4 linked regions of the Homo sapiens genome follow. The protein of the gene in region 2 interacts with the protein of the main gene of each other region in a pairwise test. Each region holds a gene or a part of one and is shown on either strand. Other genes may lie near its edges. The genes, in order: CCDC57, TBC1D22B, CEP63 and MID2.

What was found.
Region 1: the proteins of TBC1D22B (region 2) and CCDC57 interact in binary tests that used the Homo sapiens proteins (3 or more experiments, as listed by UniProt).
Region 3: the proteins of TBC1D22B (region 2) and CEP63 interact in binary tests that used the Homo sapiens proteins (3 or more experiments, as listed by UniProt).
Region 4: the proteins of TBC1D22B (region 2) and MID2 interact in binary tests that used the Homo sapiens proteins (3 or more experiments, as listed by UniProt).

What each region holds. Positions count from the first base shown.
Region 1 is NC_000017.11:82,202,294-82,209,842, reverse strand, and holds part of CCDC57 (coiled-coil domain-containing protein 57), read left to right. Parts: intron 1-703; exon of another isoform or gene 704-711; coding exon of another isoform or gene 712-771; intron 772-1,794; coding exon of another isoform or gene 1,795-1,996; exon of another isoform or gene 1,997-3,510; coding exon of another isoform or gene 3,511-3,562; intron 3,563-7,549. UniProt on the Homo sapiens protein: Pleiotropic regulator of centriole duplication, mitosis, and ciliogenesis. Critical interface between centrosome and microtubule-mediated cellular processes. Centriole duplication protein required for recruitment of CEP63, CEP152, and PLK4 to the centrosome.
Region 2 is NC_000006.12:37,260,301-37,267,849, forward strand, and holds part of TBC1D22B (TBC1 domain family member 22B), read left to right. Parts: intron 1-7,549. UniProt on the Homo sapiens protein: May act as a GTPase-activating protein for Rab family protein(s).
Region 3 is NC_000003.12:134,530,664-134,538,212, reverse strand, and holds part of CEP63 (centrosomal protein of 63 kDa), read right to left. Parts: intron 6,369-7,549; coding exon 6,273-6,368; intron 5,454-6,272; exon of another isoform or gene 5,436-5,453; coding exon 5,313-5,435; intron 1,059-5,312; coding exon 945-1,058; intron 1-944. UniProt on the Homo sapiens protein: Required for normal spindle assembly.
Region 4 is NC_000023.11:107,828,660-107,836,208, reverse strand, and holds part of MID2 (probable E3 ubiquitin-protein ligase MID2), read right to left. Parts: intron 1-7,549. UniProt on the Homo sapiens protein: E3 ubiquitin ligase that plays a role in microtubule stabilization. Mediates the 'Lys-48'-linked polyubiquitination of LRRK2 to drive its localization to microtubules and its proteasomal degradation in neurons.

The sequences.
Region 1 (7,549 bases), on a different chromosome or scaffold from region 2:
CTATACACATGCAAATCTATTTCAGTATATCTGTGTCTCTGTATATATTAAAAACTGGCTGGGTACAGTGGCTCACGCCTGTAGTCCCACCACTTTGGGAAGCTGAGGGGGGAAAATCGCTTGAGGTGAGGAGTTGGAAACCAGCCTGGCCAACAAAGTGAGACACCCATCTCTATAAAAAATTACAAAATAAATTAGCCAGCCATGGTGGCGTGTGTCTGAGTCCCAGCTACTCTGGAGGCTGAGGTAGGAGGACCATCTGAGCTCAGGAGTTTGAGGCTGCAGTGAGCTATAATCATGCCACTGCACTGCAGCTCGGGTGACAGAGTGAGATCCCATCTCAACAAACAACAAACACCAAAAAAACCTGTGAGTTTATTACAAGTTACGCACTTGTAATCAAGTTAGGTTCACCTGTTTCTACTTCATTTTGAGTCCTTACTGATTTTAAGTTTTTTTGTTTTTTGTTGTGCTTTGTTTTTGGCACATGAAACATGTATACGTGGTTCTAAAAGTCCGCAAAGTCTAAACTCAACTACAAGACTTCGACTTCAACTTCTATTTCTCACTTACTCACTTTTTTTTGGCAAATGCACGTTCAAAGAAAACAGCCCTTCATGTTCCTTCGTGGTAGTGGTGCCCCTCTTCTCCAGCAAGTGCCACTGACAGAATTCAGACCTACTGCCCATCTCTCTTATTTCAGTTTTAGAAATGGCTGTGGCTACTCTTCGGCAGTCAGTGGAGGAAGTGAAAAAAAACACGGGGTCACAGGTACATAATTTTTGTCCCCTGGACCTATTTAAAGAGTAGATGAGAGGCTGGGTGCAGTGGTTCACACCTATAAGTACGTGGGAAGATCGCTTGAGCTGTAGCTTTTAGATGGGCATTCGAGGCTGCAGTGAGCTGTGATTGTGCCACTGCACTCCATCCTGGGTGACAGACTGAGACTCTGTTTCAAAACAAAAGAGTAGATTACTGAATTTGGCCTCCCAGAGGGCTTAGCAGCACTCTCTGGAATCCAAGAGGGGCCACAAGAGCTAAATTCAGTACATTTAAAGGTGAGAGGATCATTTGAGGCCAGGAGTTCAAGACCAGGCTGGACAATATAGTGGAACCCCATCTCTACAAGAAATTTAAAAAAAAAATTAACTGGGCATGGTGGTGCCTGCCTGTAGTCCCAGCTACTCAGGATGCTGAGATTGAGTCCTCTGTCCTGAGTACAAAGTGAATGAGCCACCCCAGACCTGCCTTCCAGTCCCAGGAAGTGTCTTATAAGTTAAGGGTATTAGGCCAGGCACGGTGGCTCACGCCTGTAATCCCAGCACTTCGGGAGGCCGAGGCGGGTGAATCACGAGGTCAGGAGTTCAAGACCAGCCTGGCCAAGATGGTGAAACCCCATCTCTACTAAAAGTACAAAAATTAGCCGGGCATGGTGGCGGGCGCCTGTAATCCCAGCTACTTGGGAGGCTGAGGCAGGAAAATAGCTTGAACCCAGGAGGTAGAGGTTGCAGTGAGCCAAGATCGCGCCACTGCATTCCAGCCTGGGCAAGAAAACAAGACTGTCTAAAATAATAATAATAAGTTAAGGGTATTAAATATATTTATACATGGAGGTCATAAAAATATATATATTTGGGCTGGGCGCAGTGGCTCACACCTGCGCCCGGCCCTTTGGGAGGCCGAGGCAGGTGGATCACCTGAGTTTGGGAGTTCCAGACCAGCCTGACCAACATGGAGAAACCCCTTCTCTGTGTATTTTTAGTAGATTTTATTTTATGTGTATTTTATTCACAGGTATTTCTGGAAAACTCAAACTGTTTTTCCTCTACTCTGATACCACAAGAATCATCAGCACAGAGGAAGACTTCTGTGATCAAATGTGGTGGGAGAGGGAGGTTTTCACCAGCACATGAGCAGTCAGTTCTGCCGCAGACTCGGCGGGTGTCCTTCGGTTCAGTTCCAACACCGCCTGCCTGGAGAGAGGTCAGACCACAGGGTGAGGGCTCAGTCCCCAAGACATAAACACCCAAGACATAAACACCCAACAGGTCCACCCCGCCTGCTGCCCAGGCAGAGCCGATTCACCAAGACGGGAATTAGGATAGAGAAAGAGTAAGTCACACAGAGCCGGCTGTGCGGGAGAACGGAGTTCTATTATGACTCAAATCAGTCTCCCCAAGCATTCGGGGATCAGAGTTTTTAAGGATAACTTAGTGTGTAGGGGGCCAGTGAGTTGGAGATGAAAGCGTAGGGAGTCGAAGGTGTCCTTTTGCGCCGAGTCAGTTCCTGGGTGGGGGCCACAAGATCGGATGAGCCAGTTTATCAATCCGGGGGTGCCAGCTGATCCATGGAGTGCAGGGTCTGCAAAATATCTCAAGCACTGATTGATCTTAGGTTTTACAATAGTGATGTTACCCCAGGAACAATTTGGGGAAGGTCAGAATCTTGTAGCCTGTAGCTGCATGACTCCTAAACCATAATTTCTTTTTTGTTTTTTTTTTTTTATTTTTGAGACAGGGTCTCACTCTGTCACCTAGGCTGGAGTGCAGTGGTGCAATCACAGCTCACTGCAGCCTCAACGTCGTAAGCTCAAGCGATCCTCCCACCTCAGCCTGCCTGGTAGCTGAGACTACAAGCGACGCCCCAGTTAATTTTTGTATTTTTGGTAGAGGCAGCGTTTTGCCGTGTGGCCCTGGCTGGTCTCGAACTCCTGGGCTCAAGTGATCCAGCCTCAGCCTCCCAAAGTGCTGGGACAACCGGGGCCAGTCACTGCACCTGGCCCTAAACCATAATTTCTAATCTTTTGGCTAATTTGTTAGTCCTACAAAGGCAGTCTAGTCCCCAGGCAAAAAGGGGGTTTGTTTCGGGAAAGGGCTGTTACTGTCTTTGTTTCAAACTATAAACTAAGTTCCTCCTAAACTTAGTTCGGCCTACACCCAGGAATGAACAAGGAGAGCTTGGAGGTTAGAAGCACGATGGAATTGGTTAGGTCAGATCTCTTTCACTGTCTGAGTTATAATTTTGCAATGGTGGTTCAAAGACTGCCCGCTTCTGACACCAGTCGCGAGTCCTGGCCTCCGGAACTTCTGACTGACCACTGGCTTCAAGTTGGGGTTCCCACAGCCCCCTCTTTGGGTTCGATTGATTTGCTGGGGTGACTCACAGAACCCAGGGAAACACATACGTGTAACAGTTTATTATAAAGGGTATTACAGAGGATACAGATGAGGAGATGCGTAAGGGGAGATATGGGGGAAGAGGCTTCCTGGAGGACCCCCCCACACCCCACCCACCACTCCCCAGGAACCTCTCCACACCCTGTCCTCTTGGGTGTTTAGGGAGGCTTCCTGAAGTCAGCATTCCTTCCCCCAGGGTAGAGGGTGGGAGCTCTGGGGAGGATCTTATGACCTACAATGGAAAGTCAGGTGAGAGTGGAGACCTGGAAGGATTCTGTTTCCTGAGGCCTGACACGCCCAACATTGCAACAAAAGACTGTGACGTGTGAGAGTTATGAGCCAGGAACTGTGCAAGAAAACCATGATGTGTCATTGTACCACAACAGGTAAACCTACAACATCACCGTTAGCTCAGCTCAGTATTTTTAAAATGAGAAAATCAAAGTGATGGGATGCCCACCCATGCTGTTCCAGCCCCTGCTGGGAGCTGGCTGGTTCAGGGAGCCCCACTGGTTCTCCTGAAAGAGGGTGAACGCACAGCGAGGCCTTCCCTCCCCGGCGGCTTCTCCTGCCGCTCCCCAACCCGGAAGCTTCATGGTCCTTCTTGAAACCAGGTGCTTGCTGGGGACGCCTGCTGGCCGACAGGCAGATTGCGTCCAGATGCTGAGTCCGTGCTTTTGAAAGCCAATTAATCTCAGCCTTGGGGCTTTGGGGATCATCCCGAGATGGGATTTGTACAGAAACAGAGCAGGCCGTTCTATGATGAGGTCAGAAGGAAAGGCGAGCCGAGCCCGGCTGACTTACAGGCCCTTGGTGTGTGGGGCTTCTTATGGGTCCTGAGTGTGATGGATAAAGCGCTGGAGATGCTGGGCTCTCACCGGGTGCTGCACCGAGTCACTTGCTGTATGGATTTTTCAGGCTGCTCTTCTGTGCAGAGCACAGAGGCCTGGGAGCACCCATCTCACATAGAGGGGGTGGTACGTGCCATCTGCCTGTCCTGGCTGCCTGAAGCTTTTGAAAACAGGGTGACCCGCTGAGTCCTGAGACCTGGTGGGAAGGAACCTCACCCAGTGGGGAGATGGGGGCATGGGGACCTGGAGTAGCACGTGCACAGGAACTGGCAGATAAAGGCTGCTCTGGGCCTGCAGGGAGCAGCTGGAGCCACGCAGGCTGGGCCGTGTCCTCGGTCTGTCTTCATACGCTGTGCCAAGGAGATCGGACTTTATTTTGAAAATGGTCAGGAGTCGCGGGCACATTTGAGGCCAGATAAGATTGCATGATCAGATTCTCAGAACGGCAACCCCCATGGGTGGCTGCGACCAATGAGTTAAGGAGGCAAGCCCAGTGGCAGGGCAGCTGGTACAGGACGGGGGCCACAGCAGTCCCTCAGAGAAGAGGCCCGTAGACCTCGCAGACCTCAGGCTCTGCAGAGAACCGTTGTCATGACTCACGGGCACTGTGTGAAGGGTTCTGAGTCATCAGAGATCACAGTGGTGTTCCATCATTTAATGTGTATTTGCTGATAGTCCAATTCTTTCCCTGTGTGTGCACAGGTGTGTGCACAGGTGTGTGCATGTCCTCTGTGTACAAAATGTTTCAGTCGCCAAGACTGTGCCAGACAGTGGGACTCACTACACCCGACACTGGGGTGATGGCGTTGTGCCAACGTGAGATGGAAGTTAGGAAAGCTTCCCTGCAGTGATGTTCAGGTTGAGGTCCCACTGGCAGGAGGAGCCTGCCCTGCGGTTAGGAGGAACCTTGCAGACAGAGCGGCACCTGCCACACATCCCAGGCTCTGAGGGCACGTGGCAGCGACAGGCAGGAGCCTGGGGTCCAGATGTCCTCAGTGGAATGGGAAGCCTGGTTAAGCCTTTTTTTTTTCTTGAGATGGAGTCTCTCTTTGTTGCCCAGGCCGGACTGCAGTGGTGCGATCTCAGCTCACTGCAAGCTTCGCCTCCGGGGTTCACGCCATTCTCCTGCCTCAGCCTCCCAAGTAGCTGGGACTACAGGCGCCCACCACCACGCCCAGCTAATTTTTTGTATTTTTAGTAGAGACGGGGTTTCACCGTGTTAGCCAGGATGGTCTCAATCTCCTGACCTTATGATCCGCCCGCCTCGGCCTCCCAAAGTCCTGGGATTACAGGCATGAGCCACTGCGCCCGGCCCTGGTAAAGCATTTTTGAAAAGATTCCTTTGGCAGCCAAAAAAGTGGGAGTGCACAGCAGAGGCCAGTTGAGGTCTCTTGTGGTAAGACACTGTGGTGGCCGAGGTGTGGGCACAAGGTGGGAGACAGCAAGAGGTCAAGGATCATTACACGGGGTGGACGGTGGGGCCGTTGTAGGAGCTGAGGGAGACGAGGAACAGGAGCGTGGGAGAGTGCTGAGATGGTCGGTAGGGACCCTGTTAGCTCCGGCAATGGGTGGGCACGCAGCAGCTTGGAGGAGCCAGGCTGAGGTGGTCCAGGTGGCGTGATGGTCCTAGGGTGCTGGGCGCGGGGGTTGCATCGCAGGAAGCATGTGGGATGGAGGAGACCGTCTTTGCTCCAGAGCCTCGTCAGAGAAGCGCCGTCTCAGGACCCCCAGGGAGCCCTCGTGCCCCCAGCGGGTGTGCCCTGCTGACCAGCCCTTTCTGGAGGGGCCCACGGGTCTTGCAGCCCCTTACCCACCTCCTCCTTGTGCTTCGTCACAGCCGGTGCTCAGCCTGGCTGTGCCCTTGTACCCGCTCCCTCTGGGAGTTGGGACTTTGTACAACCATTGCTGTGCCCCGAGATGCAGAGGTGCCCGGAGATACAGAGGTACCCTAAGACAGGCTGGGGCTTTTTCCTGCTCTGGCAGCAGCACCCCGGCCATGTCCCACCAGGCCGGAAGTTTGTGCTTGTCCCCCAACTGGGTGTGGCCCTTTTAGGCCATGCAGTTCCCCTGTGTGGACACCAGAGAAGAGTTGTGGGGGATTTCTGTGTCCAAATCGAGCTCATACTTGGACCTCTAAAGGGTTGGGGGCAGCTAGGACCAGCCAGAAGAAACTTTATCTTTTAATAGACCACTCACTGCAGCGTGGAACTCCTGAGTTTGAATGACCCACCCACCTCAGCCTCAGAAAATGTTGGGATTGCAGGCGAGAGCTACTGTGCCCAGCTTATTGGTTTTTGTGATTTTTGTTTTTAAATTTTATTTTTTGTAGCACTTTATTTTTATGGTTTTACCAAAATATCAGTCCATGATGAACAAATAAAAGAACAAAAGAATGTACTCTCGGATGGTATATTAGACCATTCTCACATTGCTGGAAAGAAATACCTGACGCTGGGTAATTTATAAAGAAAGATTAATTGGCTCACGGTTCTCCTGGCTGTACAGGAAGCACAGTGTTGGCACCCGCTTCTGGGGAGGCCTCAGGAAACTTTTACTCATGGCGGAAGGTGAAAGAGGAGCAGGCACGAAGCAAGAGGGGAGTGTGAGTGGTGGAGAGATGCCACATCTCACTAGAACTCATTGTCACCACACACTTTGAAATGACCAAATCTCCCCAGAACTCACTGTCACAAAGACGGCACCAAGCCACGAGGGGTCCGCCCACATGATCCAAACACCTCCCACCAGGCCCCAGCTCCCCCGTTGGGGATTACAATTCCACAAAGGTTTGGGCAGGGATAAATATCGAAACCATATCAGGTGGTGAATCTTCCAGGAGCAGGGTGTTGGGTGGGAAGGGGCATTGGTTCTGAGGGACTGACCTGCTGTCAGTCCTCACGTAGCCACTTAGCAGCCTTAGTTTTCTCAGCTGTGAAATGGACAGAGTGCTGCGTTGAAGCTATTTTATAGAACCTAGCTCTTATAGCTGGACAAACCATGTTTCCCATCTTCCCTTCCTCTACTTCCCCTGGATTTCTTTTTTTTAATTTATTTTTTTAATTTTTTGGAGAAAAGAGTCTTAGTGTCGCCCAGGCTGGAGTGCAATGGTGCGATCTCTGCTCACTGCAACCTCCACTTCCTGGGTTCAAGTGATCCTCCTGCCTCAGCCTCCCGAGTAGCTGAGATCACAGGCATGCGCCACCATGCATGGCTAATTTTTATATTTTTAGTAGAGACGGGGTTTCACCATGTTGGCCAGGCCGGTCTCAAACTCCTGACCTCAGGTGACCCACCCACTTTGGCCTCCCAAAGGGCTGGGATTACAGGAGTGAGCCACCATGCCTGGCCTTTTTTTTTTGTTTATTTTGTTTTGAGAGAGAGTCTTGCTCTGTCACCCAGGCTGGTGTGCAACCTCTACCTCCTGGGTTCAAGCGATTCTCCTGCCTCAGCCTCCCGAGTAGCTGGGACTACAGGCACGTGCCACCACAGCAGGCTAATTTTTTGTATTTTTAGTAGAGACGG
Region 2 (7,549 bases):
ATGAAACTAGTTTACTCTTCTTTGCAAATTGAAAGGTGAAAAATAAAAGCGATGACAGGGTTCTTTCCATTTGTCTGATCATGATCCAACAATCTTAGTGACAACAAATAGAAATTTTATTAAATAAAAGAAGTTGCAAATGAATGAAACATTCTTTTTAAAAATAACAGCTTTATTGAGATATAATTCACATACCATAAAATTCACTCTTTTAAAGTGTACAATTCAGTGGTATTTAGTATATTCATTTATAGTATAGATGGTTTTGTGCAACCATCACCACTAATTTCAGAACATTTTCATCATCCTGAAAAGAAACTACATACCTGTTTACAGTCACTCCCCATCCACCCCACTCCAGACCCTGGTAACTACTAACCTACTTTCTGTTTCTGTGGATTTACCACTTTTGGACATTTTATATATATGGAGTAATATGATCTGAGGCCTTTTGTGAGTGGCTTCTTTTATTAAGCACAGTGATTTCAGGCTTGTCCACGCTGTAGTATGTATCAGTACTTCATTCCATTTTATGGCTGAATAATATTCCATAGTATACATACACCACATTTTGTTCATTCATCAGTTGATGGATATTTGAATTGTTTTCACTTTTGGGCTATTGTACGTAATGCTTTTATGAACATTTATGCAGAGGTTTTTGTTTGGATATATATTTTCTATTCTTCTGCTGATAAATAGGAGTGGAATTGCTGGGTCATGTAGTAACTTGGTGGAACTAAGCATCTTTTAAGTTCTCTCAGTTATTCACATGAGCCCCATTTACTTAGCACATCAAATGGTCATTGTATTAATGCCTAGAAGATAAGAGGCAATCTCTACCATTGCAGGCTTTGGCAGGTGTGGTGGCCTGTAATCCCAGAATTTTGGAAGGCTGAGGCAGGTGGATCGCTTGAGGCCAGGAGTCCGAGACCAGCCTGGCCAACGTGGTGAAACCCCCCATCTCTACTAAAAATACAAATTAGCTGGGCTTGGTGGTGTGTGCCTGTAGTCCCAGCTACTCAGGAGGCTGATGCCCAAGAATCTCTTGAACCTGGGAGACGGAGGTTGCAGTGAACTGAGATTGCGTCACTCCACTCCAGCCTGGGCAACAGAGCAAGAGATTGTCTCCAAAAAAAAAAAAAAAAAAAAATGCAGGCTCTGAAATCTGACTGCCTAGGTTAAAATCCCAGCTCTGCTTTCTAGCTATGTGATCTTATGGGATTTAATTAACCTCTCAATGCATCAGTCTCCCCATCTCTAAAATAGGGACAGAGTATCTGCTCCATGGGGCTGTTATGAGGATTAAATGAGATAATACATAATAATTGGTTAGGAGGTACACAATAATATTAGCTATTATAAGAAGGATAGTTACGATGATAGTAGCTATCATTTTTGTTTTCTCTCCTTGCTTCAGTTTTTGAAACTGAAATTGAAAAGCTTTGATCTGGTTGGGTGTGGTGGCTCACACCTGTAATCCCAGCACTTTGGGAGGCTGAGACAGGTGGATCATTTGAGGTCAGGAGTTCGAGACCAGCCTGGCCAACATGGTGAATCTCCGTCTCTACTAAAAACACACAAAAAAATTATCTGGGCTTGGTGGCACAAACCTATGGGGGAAAAATAAAAAAGCTTTGGTCAGTGTGTGTGTGTGTGTGTGTGTGTGTGTGTGTGTGTGTGTGTGTGTGTGTGTCTAGAGCTCGGGCACAGGAGAAAAAAAAAATCACCTTTTTTTTTTTTTTTTTGAGATGGGGTCTCCCTCTGTTGCCCAGGCTGGAGTGCAGTGGCACGATCTCAGCTCACTGCAGCCTCTACCTCCCAGGATTAAACGAGTCTCCTGCCTCAGCCTCCTGAGTAGCTGGGATTACAGGCACATGCCACCATGCCCAGCTAATTTTTGTATTTTTAGTAGAGAAGGGGGTTTCGCCATGTTGGCCAGGCTGGTCTTGAACTCTTGACCTCAAGTGATCTCTTGACCTCAAGCCCACCTCAGCCTCCCAAAGTTCTGAGATTATAGGTGTGAGCCACCGTGCCCAGCCCTGGCTAATTTTTGTATTTTTTGTAGAGACAGGTCTTGCCATGTTGCCCAGGCTGGTCATGAACTCCTGGGCTCAAGCAGTCTGCCCACTTCATCCTCCAAAAGTGTTGGGATTACAGGCATGAGCCTCTGCGTCTGGCCAAAATCGAAATTACCTGAGTCTTCCAGGCCCTTCGTTGTTAGAAAGAGAGGCCAAGTTAAGAACTTGAAGCCGATCCTAAAATAATAATGAATCTGATAGGAGACTTAGTGTAAAAGTCACAGCCTGTCTGGGCAGGTACATTACAACTTGTTCTTGGCTTGGAGATGTTTTACTGGTAGAGTGAGTGACTAGAAGATACTAAATTATCATCGAAACAGCATAGATCACCTGTTCTGGAAGACTAATGTGGAGTGAGTGTGTGAACCTACATCAGTTGCCAACACGTTTGGCATTTAAATTTGATGGGTCTTTTTCCCATATTTGCACTAGCTCTTTTATCAGTGCTAAACAAACACCTGTTGATTTTTCCTACCAAGATGTTTGCACTGTTTCAACTAGGCAAAACAGCTATGTCAATACATTCTATGGTGTTGGTTTTATTAAAGAGAGTGACGGAGATTAATCAGAACTTTTGTTCCATTTTGTCTGCGTGGCAGCATATTCCATGGCATTCTTTTCTCTGCATATGTGGTGTGATTTCTTCGAGATGCAGTGTGTTAACTAACCTCTGGTTTTTAGGTCTAGCTTAAGTGGAGGCCTAGGTTTTGTAGAGATCTAATCTTCACTTACTAAATATTGTTAAGTGCCTGCTGGTATGTGTCATGCTCTGCCAGGTGGCAAGGGGGCTACAGAAAAAGATATGGCACCACTATGGCTTTCTAGGAGCTAAAAAATCTGCTTGGCATCATGGCTTCCCCTGGAGAAGATGCTGTGTATGATTGACTTTCTGGTTTTTCCACTAAACATATGTTATATTTGTAATCAGACAAACTTAAAAGTGGAATTGGGTGAAAACACATTGTTGAATGCAAAGAGCAAGATGTAGAAAGATATGTGCAATGTGCAGTCTTTTATGTGAAGTTTAAAAACATAAAAAATACTGTGTGTTGTTTATGGATCTGTGAATATATGTAGAGGAATAAAAACAGATGGGAGGAGTTCCCTCCAATTTCAGAATAATTGTTATCTCTTGGGAAGTGAAGAAACAGGACTAGGGACTGCAATTAGGGCATCAGTAGTCTAACACTTTGTTTTTGTTTTGTTTTGTTTTGTTTTTTTGACATGGAGTCTTACTCTGTTGCCAGGCTGGAGTGCAGTGGCCCGATCTCCGCTCACTGCAACTTCCGCCTCCCGGGTTCAAGCGATTCTCCTGCCTTGGCCTCCCGAGTAGCTGGGACTACAGATGCGTGCCACCACACCCAGCTAATTTTCTTGTATTTTCAGTAGAGATGGGGTTTCACCATTTTGGCCAGGATAGTCTTGATCTCCTGACCTCATGACCCACCCACCTTGGCCTCCCAAAGTGCTGGGATTACAGGCGTGAGCCACTATGACCGGCCTAACACTTTTTTTCTTAAATGAAATGTGACAAATGTTAACATTTGTAAATCAGAGTGATGGGTTTGTGGATGTTTATTATATCATTTTCTGTACTTTTCTTTGTGTTTGAAAATGTCAATTAAATGCTTTTTCACTTGTGTTAGAGCAAATGTTTTGTATTTTTTTTTTTTAACTTGTGTTGGAGAGATCAGCCAGTTAGCCATGGAATTAAGTAAAATTTAAAGTAACATGATTTAGAGTCAAAATAAGTCATATTTACAGTGTGATGTTATTTATATAAAGTTTAAAAAACATGCAAAATCATACATTATTTAGGGATACATACATAGAAAATAAAAATATAAAAATGAGTGTGAAAAATGCCAGATCCAATAGAGTGGCTTGCTAGGAAGGGAGGGAGGGGTATGCCAGGGTGTTTTGTTTTGTTTGGTTTTGTTTTGTTTTTGACACGGGGTTTCACTCTTGTTGCCCTGGCTGGAGTGCAATGGCACGATCTCGGCTCACCGCAACCTCTGCCTCCCAGACTCAAGCAATTCTTGTGCCTCAGCGTCCTGAGTAGCTGGGATTACAGATGTGTGCCACCAAGCCCAGCTAATTTTTATTTTTAGTAGAGATGGGGTTTTGCTGTGTTGGCCAGGCCAGTCTCGAACTGCTGGACTCAAGTGATCTGCCTGCCTCGGCCTCTCAAAGTGCAGGGATTACAGTGCCCAGCCCTGATTGTGTCTTATATTATGATCTAAATCTAGTTTATTTTTAAAAAGTAATATAAGCCCTAATTTATGTATGTTAGGGAACTAGAGAAGACATGAGTTAGTAGATGCTGGGGGTAGGGGTATGGAAAGTTTCATGAGGGGTGTAGAATTTGAAGAGAATGTTGCAGGATGGATACAATTTTGAAAAGGGATGTAGAAAATAGAAAAGCATTCCAAGTAGGGAAAAGAGCCTTATTTAATAATGGGTTTAATAAGTTTGGAAGGTGGAGTGGAGATCAGTCTTTCTTAGAGCTGAGTTTGGGTTTGGAAGGAGTAGGTATGGTACAGACAGTGAAAGGTGAATTATAAATGTCAGGAAATTGAGCACCTTAATCATTGGGCTCTTCTGGTCTATCTCCATTTAGTCTCTGTGATCATCTCGGTTTCTCTTTTCTAAATTCTTGCCTGTCTTTTTTAAGCTGCAATAAGCTGATTTATTATACAAAGTGTTCCAGTTTTAGATACATCATGGTTCAGTTCAAGAATATGTTAACAAATTCAATTTGGGCCCTGATACCTTTGCTGATGAAGTCCATCATTTATCTTAGCCTTCCTGGCTATGCCAGCACCTTGGGCTGACAGCTTTAAAAAATAGTCTACTGTGATTTTAAGATTCCTTTCCTAGATGGTAATTGATGGCCTCTGGCCCTTCAGCCTGCACAAATTAGGTTTGCTTTTCTTCTGCATGGGTTACTGGCAGATGGTAATACTTCTTTAAGGTAATACTCTCTTATTTTTCTACCCAGTCACCTTACCTAACCGGCCTGTTGAGATCTTCCTGCAGTTTATCCTCTGATTTTATATTTTATTGTGAGGAGGGCTTGTGGGCTTGAAGAATTCAGGTGTACTCTTAGATTATTTGCAGCTGCTAATGTGCATATCAGTAGCCCTTTGGGTTTTTTTTTTTTTCCCGTGGTCAGTGGGGGTGTCTAACACCCCCTTCCTCTCTCAGCAGAACTTTCCCTTTACTCTTTGATTCCTCTTTTTTTCTCTCTGCCTAGGAAACCCTTTAAACACATCAATTAGTATTGTTTTCAAAGTTTGTATTTCTGTAGTAATATATGTAATAGTTTGCTTACACATTACTTATTAATCTTCCAGAGAGGTTTAGGGAGTAAAGATTCTTATAGCTAAAGAAGTAGGGACTGTATTCATAAATTAAAGATTATATGTAAGATTTCCTCTGAAATCTTAATAGGAATCAATGTGAAAGTGATTGATTTGGCTATATTTTTATTTAAGAGCATCCTTTAGGATCACCTCTGTTATGTGAAACAAGTATTTGGTAAGCTTGTTTCAATTTCTAAATGTTGAGTATGGATTAAATTATAAAAATGGGAGGGAGGAAGAAAATCAACATTTCTTGGGCACTGAGTGTTTGCTGGGTAGTGTTCTAACATTTGCAAATCTACGTCACTTCCTGCTTAACATTAAATTAGCATTACCACCCACCAGGAATTGTGCTAAAGGGCTTTCAACATATCGTCCCACTTAAACCTTCTAACCTTCTCAAGATCGCTTATTTCTTATAAAGGTGATACTTGTACATGATACTAAATCAGAAAGGGTTTGCAGTGAAAACTAAGTCTCTTTGGTGTCCCATCATCTTCCAGTCATCTGGTTCCTATTCCAAACTGCTGCTACCAGTGTCTTTTGTATTCTTTCAGATACTCTGATATTCTTTCAGATACATAGACCTAATCATACATAAAATGCATGTATCTATTTTAAAGATTTTTATAAAAATGGTGTCATACATGTAGTTCTGCATCTTTTTTCAATTAATGTCTGAGTTTATTTCATGTCAGTGAATATAGAACTGCCTCATTCTTTTTTTTTTTTTGAGACGGAGTCTTGCTCTGTCCCCCAAGCTGGAGTGCAGTGGTACAATCTCGGCCCACTGCAACCTCCGCCTCCCCAGCTCAAGCCATTCTCCCGCCTCAGCCTCCTGAGTAGTTGGGATTACAGGTGCCTGCCACCATGCCCGGCTAATTTTTGTATTTTTTAGTAGAGATGGGGTTTCACCATGTTGGCCAGGCTGGTCTTGAACTCCTGAGCTTAGGTGATCTGCCTGCTTTGGCCTCCCCAAGTGCTGGGATTACAGGCGTGAGCCACCGCACCTGGCCAGAACTGCCTCATTCTTTTTAAAAGATATACTGTAATTTATTTAACTACTTTCCTGTTGGTAATTATCCTTTCTATTTTAATAGGTAAGTTAGCTCCTTTATATTTATTGGAATAACTGATATATTTAGTTATTTAGTTTAAGTTCAATTTTTAATATTTTCTTCGTCTTTTTTTTTTTTTTTTTTTTTTTTGAGATAAGGACTTACTCTGTTGCCCAGGCTATAGTGCAGTGACACGATGATAGGTCACTGTAGTCTCAAACTCCTGGGTTCAAGTAATCCTCTCACCTCAGCCTCCCAAGTAGCTAGAAGTACAAGCATGCACCACCACAGTTGGCTAATTTTTAAATTTTTTGTAGGTACAAGGTCTTGCTACGTTGCTCAGGCTGGTCAAACTTCTAGCCTCAAGCAGTTCTCACACCTCAGCATCCCAAAGTCCTGGGATTACAGATGTGAGCTACCATGCTTGCCCTTTTAAAAATATTTTCTTCTTAAAAAAGTCTTTCACTATGTGGACTGTGCTTGCTTTTGAGGGGAGGACATACATATATATATATATATACACACACACATATATAATATATATATACACACATATATAATATATATACACACATATATAATATATATATACACACATATATAATATATATATACACATATAATATATATACACACATATATAATATATATATACACATATATATAATATATATACACTATATATAATATATATACACTATATATATAATATATATATACACTATATATATAATATATATATACACATATATATATACACACACACATATATATATTCTGATAATTTGGAAGATTTATCTTTTTATTTTAGTGATTGTGTTTATAAGTGTAACTTTATACCATATTTCTTCAGACAGTACCTGTTGGCTCCCTACCATGAGTAATGATGAAATTAGTAAGTATATTTCCTCACCCCTCTCTTCCCACCTGCTTCTAGTTGATTATATTATTTTTCTTGGTTTTATTTTCTGTCGTAAAACATCCATATTCGTCTATTAACATTTGCAAATCTACATTAGGATTTAATGTTAAACAGGTAGTGACA
Region 3 (7,549 bases), on a different chromosome or scaffold from region 2:
AAAAAAAAAAAAAACCCTCCCTTCTAGCTATTTCAACTTACCCAGGCTGTTCCCTCATTCTATAAAACTAAGATAACTACCAACCTTGACAGATTATCATAATATTAAACAGAGAACACATACAAGAAGCACTGGGTCAATGTCTAGCACATAACAGATGATCACAAATTTTTTTAGTTTCCTTTATGTTCTTGATTCTAACTGAAAAAGGAATGAGCTGAATATGTTCTTACAAGACATATTCCTAAAGTAGGTGTCTGTTTTTTGGTTTTGCTTAAGCCATTACAAGAAAAGTTTCTATCAATGTTCTAAAATAAGTGTTTTTGTTACCACAAAGACACCACTTTTAGTTGGTGTGCACACCATTGCCATGTGACTCTCTCCGTATCTGTCCGCATAGGCAGACTAACTGAAGCTCCCTAGCTGAGACACTTCGGCCAAGATACCCCAGTGACCATAGGGATGGAGCAAGGCACAGACTATAGTAGAGCTGAGAGACCCAACAAGAGACAGAAAGACATGGAAAAGGAGACAGAGGGAGGAATGGGACTGTGGTAGGGAAGAAAGAGAGGGGAGGAAGAGAGGGCGACAAAGCTAGGGACCAAGATGAGGAGAGTGAACATGGATGCAAGCATAGAGTGAGCCTGAGTAAGCAAGACAATGACAGAGAGTGGGTGAGCAAGTCAGAAACAAGCAAGGAGGCAAAGCAGCAAGCGGGCACAAGGACATGAGCCTGGACAGGAGAGTGAATGCACGCATGTGTGAGGGCAGGCGGGAAGAAGGAGCTGAGTCTAGATGCTGAGGAGAGGCTTCCTAAACAAGAGAGCAGGGTTCGTGGAGAGAAGCTGAAAGAGGCTAAATGGTACTAGGACACTGCATTAAGGTAGTTCAAACTTGATCAAAACCTATCTGCTTCTCATTATTTTAAAAAGTCTTAGGCCTACCTGAATTATCTCTGATTGTTCAGCCAGAGCCTTCCTTTGTGCCTCCAGTGAAGATACCTGTTGCTGATAAATCAAGCGTTGCTTCTCCCAGTCCAGCGATTTCTGACGGAATTCCTGAGGAGGCAATTAGAGTACTTAATTTCTGAGTGCTTCTCCTCACTGTCACTACTTCCCAGACTCCCTTTAACTTTAATTTCTCCCCATGTCCCTGGGTACGCTTGCACCTTTCTCCACAGCGGGAGCCCCATTACTCACTCAGCTAACAGAGCTGGAGAGTAATACTAACTTCCTCACATACTGTGCCTCTGGATATCTGTCTTTCTAAATTTAACACCCTGATGGTGAGGAGTATGACACGCAGATGTTAAGCACTGGATTCAGATGTTTTTCACTGATTTGCTGCCACCTAAGGGTTGTTATAATTTTCTAGTGAATTTTCAGAAAACTGATGCTAAGATAACTAAAATTTTAAAGTATGATTACAGATATCCCTCGCTATCCAAATTCTTGATATCCAGACCCAGGAATTGAACAGATTAAATTTTCAGATAAGTCCCTTGGTAACCCAAATCTTACTTCCCAGTATCTAAAACTAAGGAACCAAGTAGATTCAGATAACACAATATCCTTTGATATCCAAATTTGTATTATCTCAACAGAGGAACTGCAAAAGTTTGAATAACAAAGAAAATCTGTACCAAATTTTAACAAATATTTGTAACCCAAAGCCAAACAGTTCAAAATTAATGATGGATCAATAGTAACATCAAATTGCATGATCAAGAAAGTGATTTCAATATTTATGAAAATGGGGCAAATCAAAGGGAAAGGAAACTCAATCTTTCTATCACTGTCTTCCAGGACCCTCAACTCCAGAAGTCTCAGGCTCCTTAAGATAAGTGTTGTTAACCAAATTTCTGATATTCATTCATTCATTCAATCATTCTACTATATATGCCAGGTACTGCTTTAGGAGTCAGGGATACAATACTTAACAAAACAAACAAAAACCCTAGTCCTACTCAACTGGGGGCAACAGATGACACATTTCTTGTATGGTATAGCAGATGGTAATACACGTTTTGGAGAAAACAGAGCATGAAGTCTTCACAGTTGGGGTTGTAATTTTTAAAAGGGATGGCCAGACTGAGTGAAAAACATTTAAGTAAACACCTAGGGAGATGAGGGTGAAGTTACAATATTCTGGGTGGAAAGAATAGCCTTGAAATAAGAGCATCCTGGTGTGTTTAAGGGTGAGAAAGGAAATTGGTGTGGCTGGAATAAAGTGAATGAAAGGGAAAGTAGGAGAAGACAAGGTAAGAGAGATAACTGGGAATGAGACCACGTAGGCCATTAGGATAACAGATTTTTAAGAGAAGCTGCTGGAAGGTTTTTGTATAGGAAGTGATATAATTTGACTTACATTACAGCAGAATCATTCTGGCTATCATGCTGAGAAAAGAGAAGTCTAGGATGACTCCGAGGTTTTAGGTTGAGCAAATTGAGTTGTTATCAACTAAAACATGAATCAGTGTTGGGGAGATGAGGAAGAGAAAGACAGGACCTTTAGCTTGGACATGTTAAGTTTGACACATTTTAGACATCATAGTGGAGATAGGAAACAGGCAGTTGAAAGTTATTCTGTCATGAAGAGGCGAGGTCTTGGCTAGATATATAAATTTAGGAATTGTCAGCATATACACAGTGTTAAAGCTATGAAATTCAATGGGATCAATAGGGGAGTGAGCGTAGATAGGAAAAAAAAAAAGGAAAGGAAAGGTCCAATGACATGACCCTAGGTGGTTAAGGAATAATGGAGACTGAGGAGTGATGAACAAGGAAAAAATGAGAGAAATGTGGTTTTTCTCAAGCCAAGTCAAGAAAGTGGTTAAGGAGTTGGGAGAGACCAGCTCTCCTACAAAGCTGTAGGTAGGATGAGGAAGATAAGGACCAGCCCACAGGCTTTGGGAATGTGGAAGTCACTGGTGACCTCTATGTGAACAGCTTCTGCAGTGTGAGGGGACAAAAGCCTTATTGAGTGGGTACAAGAACAATGAGACAAGAGGAACTGGAGACAAGTATAGATGACTGAAGTAATTTTTTAGTTATAAAATGGAAGAAATAAAATGGGGCAGAGGAGGAAGAGACGGGTCAAGAGAGGATATTTAAGAGGAGGGAAATTTGGATGCTGGTAAAAAATATCCAGTAGAGAAAAAAAATTAAGGGTGCAGAAAAGAGAAGGTGAACTGCTAAGGTAATGCCTTGGGTAGAAAAGGGGGAGGGCATGCGTAGTTCCTCCAGGAAGGAAGGCAGGGTACATGGGCACAGATGCAGATAGGTGGGTGGACACAAGAGTTGGAAGTCTATAAACAGAAAGGAAGATATAACCCAAAGGTGAGGATGTGGGGAAAGGTGTTGAGAGTTTGAGGAGAAAAGCAGAAGTCTGAAATACTCATTGTGGAAAGTAGGAGATGAGAGGAAATACAGTATGATTCCAGGTAGCATTAGGACCCATTTGAGGTTAGTGACCATGAATTTAAAGTGAGAACAGACAGTATGATTAGGTTTTTCTCTAGCCACGTTCAGCGATACATGACAGGTAGAGAGTGGGCAGAAAGGTGGACTTAAGCAGAACTGTGATTCTGCCAAGCAAATATGAGGAAGCAAGAGAGGAGCACAGGAGATGAAGGGGAAAGTAAAAAATGTAATGACAGAATTTAAAAGCTGGCTAAGGACCGATAAGTGAGAACACCAAGTAGATAATGGAGCAGTAAAAAGGTGGCAGAATTTAATCATTTTAAGGGATGGTTAATGATTACTGAGAGTCAAAGGACTAGAGAGAGTTAGCTGAAAAGATAGGGATTGGTAGTCTGATAATTGAATGCTTGAAAATGAGATTCTAGAGGGGTGGCATATATTGGTAATGACAAGAGCTAAGGAATGGCAGTGGGAATAAGTAGATGAGACACAAAGATAATCAAACTATCTATGGAGGAAAGAAAGCCAAGAAACTGTAAGGTCAGAGTATTATAAGCATCATCTCTCCAGATCCTAAGATCCTCAAAGTTATGATAAGAGTAATGTCAGAGAGAATTGACAGTGAGCTGGGTGCTGAAATCAATGAGCCAAGGAAATAACCCAGAGGTCAGACGATGACTATTTTGGTTGTTATGTTCATTGGCTGGCAGTATAGGCTGGTAACATGAAAATCAAAGATGGGGTTTTTGAGGTAGAAAGAAAAGAGAATAGTCAGGAAGTGGCAATGAGAAGCAAGAAGGATATAGGGTTTGGGGGGAAAAGGTATTGCCGAAAAGGGTGGAAGGGAAGCAGTAGCTGCAGTCTTCTGATTCTAAGCTCTTCAAATGTAAAAAAATATTGAGATATAAAGGAATATTAAACACAGAAATTATAATTTTAAGTAATAATAATATACTGGCATTTGTGGGTGACAGGTCACCCAGAGTACAAACTTGTAAGTGATCACACAAAGATGTTGAACAATGTTTCTCAAATCAGAATAAGCTAGGGGAGCTGGATACAATGCAGATCCCTAGGTCCTATGCCATACTGCTGGATCAGCATTTCTGAGAGCCTAAAAGCACCCTGGGAATTCTTATGTCCAGTGAAGAACTAATGGCAAGGACAGACGAAGAGAATGACAGCCTTGTGCTCTTCCTTCATCTACTCTTGGTACTATTAGCTCACCAGCTCCCCTTAAGTTCTCAATATATACAATAATCATGGAGTTATTCAGTCTTAATAAAAACAAAGTCAGCAGAGAAGGAAGTGAATGCCTTACTACATCTAAATGGGAATTGAGAATAATCTGATACAGAGATTACTTTGTACGAAAAGTGCCATGTACTTTCCACATTTACTAAGCCCCCACTTTATTAGGTGCTTGAGATACAATGATATATAAGACAAGAACAATGTCCATAGAGGACTGCCTATAACTAGTGGTCATGTTTCCCAATTGGAGAGTTACTGGCATTTGAGGTACAATAATCCTTCCTGTGTGGAACACTCTTAGGCATGTTTAGTATCCCTGGTCCCTGTCCCCTAAATGCCAGTTTTATTAAGCTCAGTCATTTTGACAACCAAAAAAATATGTCTCCGTACATTTGCAAATGCTCCCTAAGGGTGGTACTGCCCTGTTGAGAATTACTGATGGCCAGTAACCCCGTTAACCCAGGGAACTAGATGATGATAGGATGTATGGTGGATCACCCTCTCACCTCTGAAATAGCTTAGTGGCAGTCCTTAAGATAGTAGAAAATTGGTTCCAGAAAATAGTGCCATTAGAAACCGCATTTTCCTACGTGAAGGCTGACAATCACTATGAACAAATTATTACTATGAACATACCTCTATTTTTGCAGTTAACCTCTCAATTTCAGACCGATCTTCCCTGTGATTTTTGGTATTTCCTCTGAATTCCCTCATTTGCTTTTTCTGAAGCTTTTCATAGCTTCTCTTCAGTATGCATAACTGTAGAAACAGTTATTTCTATATTTAAAGTTTAAGAATTTGTAAGAAGTAGTGGTGAGACAAATTGGTATTATGAAAACAAGAGCAGTGCTAACCAGTACTACTGAGAACATGTTAGATTTCCAAACTAAAACACAAAAGGAAACTAAAAATTAAATATGTAAAACAAACACTACTAAAGAAATATATTCAAAGAAAAAATTTTAAAAAAAATTTTAAACAAAAGTTTTGTATTACAATAGCCCTGCACTTAAAGACCCTACCACCCAGCCCCACAATAAAGCAGCAAATAAAAACTCTTTTTCTTTCCTCTAGGTCTGTGATTCTCAAGCCATGCTCTTGCAGGGCACTGATATTCAGGATGCAGGAGAAGAGTACTTTGCAATTAAATCAGAATAAAAGCAGTTTTTTCCAAATCTGAAGAATAAAATTGAGTTAATGGACAGAATTTTCTTACTTGTCTTATTTATCCCAAAATGTTTCTTAAATCTTTGGATCCTCCATTATTTATAATCTAGTAACTGATAAAAATTAAAATATTAAATGTAATTTTTGGTATCAAGTATTTCACAGTATTACATAAAAACAGCTCTATTTCTTTCAGGTACTCAACCAAGAAACATATTTTAGCATCTCTTCTAGGTAGTATCAAACCTACAGTTAGGCAAACCTCTTTACCTGGATTAAAGAACAGAGAAATGGATTCCCACTCCTGTATCTTTGATGGAGTATGTATTTCCCACTTTACAAAGTAGAAACTGGCTTTCATTAACAAAGTTCTCAAGGGTGAAAGAGAGAGAACTACACACACAACATTTAACAAAACTAAAATCTCACTTCTTCATGTAGTTTCTTCAACTCCTGCTTATATTCCATGGTCATCTCTTGCTTGATTTTTTCATGTTCTTCTACCTGCTGATGCAACATTCCAACCTAAAAGCAGAAAGGTGGTAGTATTTTTCACTATTAGCATTGAAATAACATCCCTGAGATATAAAAATAGAAAATAATCTCTGTATTTATTTGTAAATTCAAGTTCTCAAATGCATATATATGGTGATACCCCACTTCTTAGGAAGTCAAATACCTAGTTATTTAAGAATTCTTTACACTGCCAAAAAATAGTGAACAAACAGCTAGTTTTTAGAATTTCTAGGTTTAGATGAAGACTCTCTCTCTTTTTCTTTTTTTCTTTTTGAGATGGGAGTCTCACTCTCGCCCAGGCTGGAGTGCAGTGGTGCAATCTTGGCTCACTGCAACCTCTGCCTCCCAAGTTTAAACAATTGTCTGCCTCGGTCTCCCAAGTAGCTGGGATTACAGGCGCATGCCACCACACCTGGCGAATTTTTATATTTTTAGTAGAGACAGGGTTTCCCCATCTTGGCCAGGCTGGTCTTGAACTCCTGACCTCGTGATCCACCTGTCTCAGCCTCCCAAGGTGCTGGGATTACAGGCGTGAGCCATCGCGCCCGGCCGAAACTGTGTCTCTCTGTCTGATTATCCTACTCAACCCTTTTCATCAAAAAAACTCATGAAAATAAGAAATATAAAGTGTTGAGAGTCCTGGAAACCAACAATACTTCATAAAAAATCTAGAAGACCTTAGGAATAATTTCTCTACAATAAAGTACAGAATAGTAACGTCAGACAGGAAAACAAAAGGAGGTTTGTGCCTGCTTTACCATTCACCCAACTCCAGAGAAACGAGTTCCACCAACCATGGTAAGGAAGTTATCCTAACCCACTTTTCAATGATTTGATACCAGTGACACCTATTTTCTGCCAAGCCTTCACCTCCACAAGTATCCAGCAGTATTTCTTTTAATAACCAGCTAGAATTTCATCTACTGGTAAGTAGGGAGGGAGAGGGAAAACAGGGAACACAAGGGAGTAAACAATCACAATCTACAACAGTAAATTTTTTTAAAGTACTAGAAATAAGCTACTTATAAGAATGAGGACTAAATGCAATTCCAATAAAAAATTATAGTGGAATTTATTTTTGTAAGAAACTTGAAAAAGTCATTCTAAAGTTCAAACTGGAAGAATGGGTAAATACAGCCAATAAAATGGAAAAGTCTAGTTTTAAAAAAAGATGTAAGTGAATGATGTAA
Region 4 (7,549 bases), on a different chromosome or scaffold from region 2:
CTTAGGATAAAACTTTAGAAATAAACCTATATATATCTATGGTCAACTGATTTTCAACAAGGGTTCCAAGACCATTCGATGGAGAAAGAATACTCTTTTCAACAAATGGTGCTTGGACAACTGGATATCCACATGCAAGAGGATGAAGTTGGAGTTCTACTTCATATCATTTATAAAAATTAACTCACAACAGATCAATGATCTAAATGTAAGAGCTGAAACTATAAAACTCTTGGAAGGAAAGATAGGCATAAATCTTTGTGAACTTAGGTTAGGCAGGCAACAGTTTCTCAGATGACACCAAAAGCATAAGCAACCAAAGAAAATATACATAAATGGTACTTTATCAAAATTTAAAATTTGAGTGCTGCAAAAAGCACCATCAATGAAGTAAAAAGACAACCCACAGACTAGGCGCAAATATTTGCAAATCATATTATTATATCTGATATAGGTCTAGTCTCTAGAAATGTACTCTTACAACTCAAGATTAAAAAAGATGAGTAACTCAATTTAATAGTAGGCAAAGGATTTCAATAGATTTTTTCCAAAGATATACAAATGGCCAATAATCACATGAAAAGGTGCTCAACATAATTAGCCAGTAGGAAAATGCAAATCAAAACCACATTGAGATACTACTTCACACTAAGAAGGCTAAAATATAATAAAACAAAACAAACAAAAACCGGAAAACAGCACGTCAGCCAGGATTTGGAGAAGTTAGAACCCTCATACATTGCAGGTAGAAATAAAAAATGGTGCAGCTGCTTTTGGGAAATAGTTCGACAGTTCCTCAAAAGGCTAAATGTAGAGTTACCATATAATTCCACTCCTAGGTATATACCCAAAAGAATGGAAAATGTGTTCACTCAAAAACTTGTACACAAATGTTCATAGCAGCAGTCTTCATAGTAGCCAAAAGGGAAAAGCCCAAATGTCCATCAACTGATGAAAGGATAGACACAGTGGAATATTACTTGGCTATAAAAAGGAATGAAGTTCTGATACATACTTCAACATGGATGATCTTTGAAAACAGTAAGTAAAAGAAGCCAGTCACAAAAGGCTCCTTTTGTGTATGATTCCTTTTTTATGAAATATCCAGAATAGGCAAACCCAAAGGAACAGAAAGTAGATTAATGGTTGCCAGGAGCAGGGCAGGGGAGGATGGGGGATGAGGAGTGATTGCTAACAAATATGGAGTTACTTTCTGGGATGATGAAAAGGTTCTAAAATTAGATAGTGACGATGATTGCACAACTTTGTGAAGATACCAAAAACCACTGAATTGTATACTTTAAAATAGTGAATATTATGGCATGTGAATTACATCTAATTTTTTTAAAGAAGAGATTCAATCCCAGGTCTGTCTGACTCCAGGGTGTAAACAGCAAATCACTATACTATACTAACAACTGTGTGATTATATAGTATTTATAAATTCTATTGGATTGCTTGTTCCTTTCAATTGTTTTTCTAGGTCAATGATTCCCTGTCTAGGTTTTGCAATACCCTGGGATATCTCTAGTGATCAATGAGTGTTACAAAATTCTCAGCTCCCAATTTTTATTCACTTTAAAAAGTATATAAGTGACTCCTGAAAAATATTTGACTCCTATTATCATGAAATACTTTTAGCAGGAGGAAGTGGCATGACAAAAATTAAACAATGGCAAACTGTTGCAATTTCAAAAAGTTTGTGAATCACTAATCTATACAGAGTTAGAGAGTATGCTAAGGATGAAGACAGGATGTGAATCTGATAGGGTGCAACTCAATGACAGGTAATCTTGAAAGTTTTTACAATTTGTCATAAAAACGCATTGATGAAATACCTGAGAGGGCACGATCAATTGCCATATTAAGAAACAAATGTCCACATCCACACACCCTGATTAGTTCCCTTCCAAACCATTTAGTTACTGCCATATATAGTCAGATATGTATGTTTGTTTCTGTATGGCTTTTCTTTACCTTGTGCCTTACTACAGGGTGAGACCTCTGAAAAAAGAAGTCGATGAGCATAAACTAGAAGAAGGTACCATTGGGCTGTATAACTGGGTAGAAATACAAAAGGAGTTTTGATGAAGGTGATTAAGATAAAAAATAATGGGTCTGGCGTGGTGACTCACACCTGTAGTCCCAGCACTTTGGGAGGCAGAGGCAGGCAGATTGCTTGAGCCTAGGAATTCGAGACCAGCCAGGGCAACATGGCAAGACCCCATATCTACAAAATATACAAAAATTAGTGGGGTGTGGTGGCATGCACCTGTAGTCCCAGCTACTTGAGAGGCTGAGGTGGGAAAATCGCTTGAGTCCAGCAGGTCGAAGCTGCAGTAAGCCGTAATTGTGCCACTGTATTCCATCCTGGGTGACAGCATGAGACTTTGTCTCAAAATAAATAAAAATAAAAAATAAATTTCAAAAACGTAAAAATAATGCATCCTACACTTATGAAATAAAAGACTGATTTCAGCATTGTCCTCCAAATCTAGCCTTTAGCTAACTCTGATCAAGAGAGAAGTCGTGATCTGTACTTTGCATAATTCTATTATTTCAAAGGTTACTTGAGCATAATTAAATGCCCACTTAATTAACAATTATTATTCCATCTAATTTTTTTTCTTCCGGGTCTGCAAAGCATGTATCTGAGCTCCCACTACCTTCCTGAGGAGTTATAGTATTCCCTTCATAGAAAATCCATGAGTGTGAAACCAAGCCTGATCTCTGGGCTGTAGATTGAGAAATGAGCTGAGCTGTAGGTTTTTAAAAAAAATATATATATATATATATAAAATAAACATTCTTCAGGATATTAAAATTAATGTCCCATGAGTTCTTCCTTAAAGTATTAGAAACTGTCTCCCTGCCTTGGGGTAAGGAGCAAATGAGTCCTGGCCTAGTCTGATGTTTCCTCAACTGTAAAATGTTCAAGCTAAACTAGAATCACCAGACGATCTCTTTAAGATGCTTTCCAGCTCTGACATCCGATTATTATAGAGCTCTTGCTATCTGTTACCACATAAAAAGACAGCTTGGATTATTGTAAACTAGCTCCTAAAAACACAACTTTTATTTATTAGTGTGACTAGGAAGGCTAACAAGTGATAGACATCACAGCCACTGGAGCAGGACATAAACAAAATGCATTACTAAGATGCTCAAAGTACAGTGGTTTTTGTCTGTTGTATCTCAAAAAAGACATAATGGATGTTCCAGAGGACAACTAAAGGGGAGAAGAGTCCCATGGGAATATAAACTAATGAGAATATATTTGGGGGCTGTAAAAGAAACCAAAATCCAAATTCTAGAACACCATGATTAGAAAAGAACCCCTTGAAGCTCAAAGCAGATCATTTTGGAACACAAAAGGCAACCAATGCATCGAATTCACACACTATAGGATAAGAACTGAAAATAGAAACCTAGACAGAAGAGGCTAGGTGGTCAGTAATAATAATTGATAATAGCCACCTTACATTTGTATATCAATTTATACTTTTCAAATTATTTCAAAGCCATTATCTCATTTGACCCTCATAATACAGCCTGGTTGTAGTCCTGGATCTAAACCAAATTAGCCGAGCAATCCTAGGTACATTTAAACTCTTTGGGCCACAGCTTTTTCATCTATCAGATGAAAAATACCTGCCCTGCCCATCTCACGGGCTATTGTGAGGATCAGACGAGGATAAAATAAAAGTATTAGTTTACTTTACAAATACAGGTATTCTCATCATACATTCATAGATTATAGAAACAAAGCAAGTTATTAAGAAAAGCCAAAAATGTTTGGAAATTCATCCCAAACACATGGTTGACATAATGGCAGACAATCACACTCCTCCACAAGACTTCTGGAAGATCATGGGACTGATCATGGTATTTGTTATGCTCATGTCTTCACTTTTAGACTGGGATCCCCACCCCTCTCCAAGTGAAGGGCTGTCTCTTTTCTTTTCTCTTAAACTTTCATCCTGCACAGGGAGAACTCAGAACTGGAGGCTGATTACCGACTGGCAGAGAGCACCAGTGCCAGCTCCTGTCTAATAGGTTATTAAAGCCTACTTAATATTTTATAGTACATGGAATTAATGTATGTTCTTTTCAATAATTAGTTTTTAAATCCAAACATTGAGTATTTTATACAAGATAGTCATCATATAAACATTAAAATGAGTATCAAAATAGCAGAACTAGAAGTCCTAAATCTGCTACAAACCCAAAAGGTTAATCCAAGTAACCAACAAATGGATTTGCCAAGGTAACACATGATAATTGACAGGAATCCTAAATACAATTCATAACACCTTTATCTTAATGCAGATTACACTGGCAGTTGCAGGGTTGAGGAACAAATGGAAAACAAACTTAATTTACCTATGACTACTGGTACAGCTTTCCATCTCCTCTAGGATTGCTTTTCCTAACCTCTGTTACCCAACAAAATATTTGTAAGTTTTTAAATGTTCAGTGGTTCACCTGGACAGGCAGTCATCTACACAATAAAAATGGCAATATATGTATGTAAGACATGTTATTGAATGTTAGGCTGAGAGGACCCCAAGTTCAGGTCAGAAACAAGGGACAGAGAACAGAGGCCTATTTGAAATCAAGCTTCTACTTCCCTGGGAACCACATGGATCCTAGCAACACTGAACAAAGGGCTATACACAAAGTGATCAAGGATCTGGATCGTAAACCATTTTTCTATCTCTGTGCTGTATATATTAAGACACTTCACTGTCATGAATTAGCATTGTCTGCCATGCCCATACATTATGCTCCTATCCAGGCAAATTGCAAATACTGGGATTTCATGTTTCAGGACGATTTCAGATTGTATGATGGGTTTGTTATCAGATTGTTCGGTCTCAGTAAGACGATGATCCAGAGACTGGGGATGCCGTTCATCAACCAGCGGAGTCTGACCTACGGGAAGGAAGCTGAGACAAAGCCCAAGGTCAGGCAGCCAGAGCTCTGCAGGGAGGCCAGAACCCAAGTAGGATAATGCTTACAAATGATACTTTGCCAACCCACTTAGGCTGAACCAGCATCCTAGAGTGTATTCAGGTGAATCCCACAAGGAAAAGGAAATAATGGGATGCTGGCACATTACTCAAAATCCCTCCACCACCCACACTTTAAGCATCTTATACTATCTAGTAGTCTTAGTAATTTATAGAATTTCTAAAAGAAAACTCAGCATCTGGGAGATTCATCATCAAAAGGATTATATCTGCCTATGGTCATAAAGAAGGGGAAGACAGAAAGAGAGAAACAAATAGAAACAGCCACAGACTACTTAAGCCCACAGAAAACTCTTAGCAGAGTTTTAATACATGAAAGTGGAGAAAGGAACATATTTAATATATTGAGGAGGTAAATAAAAAGTAGATTAGCTATCTGTACAAGAAGATAATTACAGCTGGAATTTCTTGTCTCAACACCACTCATCTGGTCTTCTCACTTGCTAGCATGACCCAACACACCAGTTGAGAAACACTTTTCTAGTCTCTTCTGTACACTGCTTAGTGATGAACACAATATTTTTTGAGAGACCTGAAGTACAGATGTTAGTGCAACACCATCTTGGTACCAAAATTTCATTTATCAAAATGTAAACAATTTTGAATTATCCAAAACTGTTGTATATCCAGTATCAACATGTTACATCTCATATTTTGATGATGCAATGTTCTAAGTCAAGACACCCAGCTTAATGAGTAAGGAGTGCTTCATGAACACAGAGCTTCATTCTCGCTTTTGTGCCAAAGAGAGGACAAAAACTTAATGCTAAATGGAAATGGAGCACCCCCTGGCCTCTACTAGCAGCCGAGCCCCATGGCCTAACAGCAAGGATATTACCAAGATTCATAAAGATTGAATGGCAGACACACACAAGACCAAGCAGGTATTTCCAAGAGCAGCCATTTGAGACATATTCTGTGCCCACAGCCCTGTCTTCACCCTTTTAAGGGCTCTGTGTCCCTGTCTGAAAAGACAGAGCTTGAGTTCTATGGGATAGAATGAGAAGACAACATTCTCTCCTCTTCACCAAGCCAATGAGGTTTGCTGAATGATGAAGACAGACATACTCCTTGTGTAGTTCCCTTGTCAATTATTGTGGTGTCAGCAGATTTTATGGGAGGAGGGATGAAGGAATGGACAGGCTCACTACTCAGAGCAATATTTGGATGCAATTGTGAGACTCCACTGGCACCACTTTAGGATCTGCGAGTTGAAGCAAGTTTCCCTGCTCTTAGGGAAGGGATTAACTAAATCAGTTTTATCTAAATCAATTTGCACCATTCAGATGATATGTTCATAAAGCAATCAAGTCACTCTGATTTACAGGAGTACTTCCCAGAGGTGGCCTTGCAGGGTGCAACATGCCAGACGAGAATTCTAGTAGTCATGAAAACAAATAAGAGGGACACAACCACCCTTTCATGTCCCTAGCCTCTACCCATGTCCTGCACAGCCCCTCCCTGACCTAATCCTGGAGTTGCAAGTATGGAGTTTGGCGTGGAACAAGCAGGAGGCCAAAATACTGGGCTAAATCTGGGGCCTCAGCCCAATCAGCAGAGGTCCTCTGCACATTATAGGTGCTTAATATTGTTGACTCTGCTACTAGGTGCTAATCATGCTTATATAGCCATACCCCAAATTATTTATGACACTTTTCATTAGAAGCTAACAAACTGCCCCCATATAGGCTAAAAAATGGGTGAGGTTATGTCTTCAAATTAGTCTGACTCAGATTGTTAGGTTAGAGTGCATTAGAAATGATTCAAGCCTCAACTTAAATTGATCATTATTACTCTGTATGCCTAGTTGCATGTATGTTTTCATTCAGTTGAACATGTATTGGAGAAAAACCAGATTTAGGACCTACGTACAATGATACGATTTGGCTCTGGGGGTGGGAAGCTAAAGGTTTTCAGTAAGCTAAGATTCCTGCTTACACCCAGTCAATCCACTAACTCAGTAAAAGGTAAAGGAAGTGCTTTCTTTGAAAAGTATAATGTTGGCTGGGTGTGGTGGCTCACACCTGTAATCCCAACACTTGGACTTGGCAGGTGGATCCCTTAAGCTCAGGAGTTTGAGACCAGACTGGGAAACATGGTGAATCCTGTCTCTACAAAATATTCAAAAATTAGCCGGGTGTGATGGTGTGTGCCTATAGTCCCAGCTACTAAGGAAGCTGAGATGGGAGGATTGCTTGAGCCAGAGAGGTCAAGACTGCAGCAAGCCATGATCACACCACTGCACTCCAGCCTGGGTGACAGAGCGAGACTTCGTCTCAAAGGAAAAAAAAAGTATAATGCTGAGGGTTTACAGAACCCTTTCATCTTCAAAGGACCAAGTCAAGACTAACAATACCCAGTACACAATATTATAGCTTTTACACAAGTGCACCAACTATGAAAGAAAAGTCATAGGAATGTCCTAAAGCCATAAGCCAATGTATCATCATATTTGGGATGAACTCTGATCTTCTTGACTCCTGGACCTGTGTTTTAACCACTACATTAGCTATTCT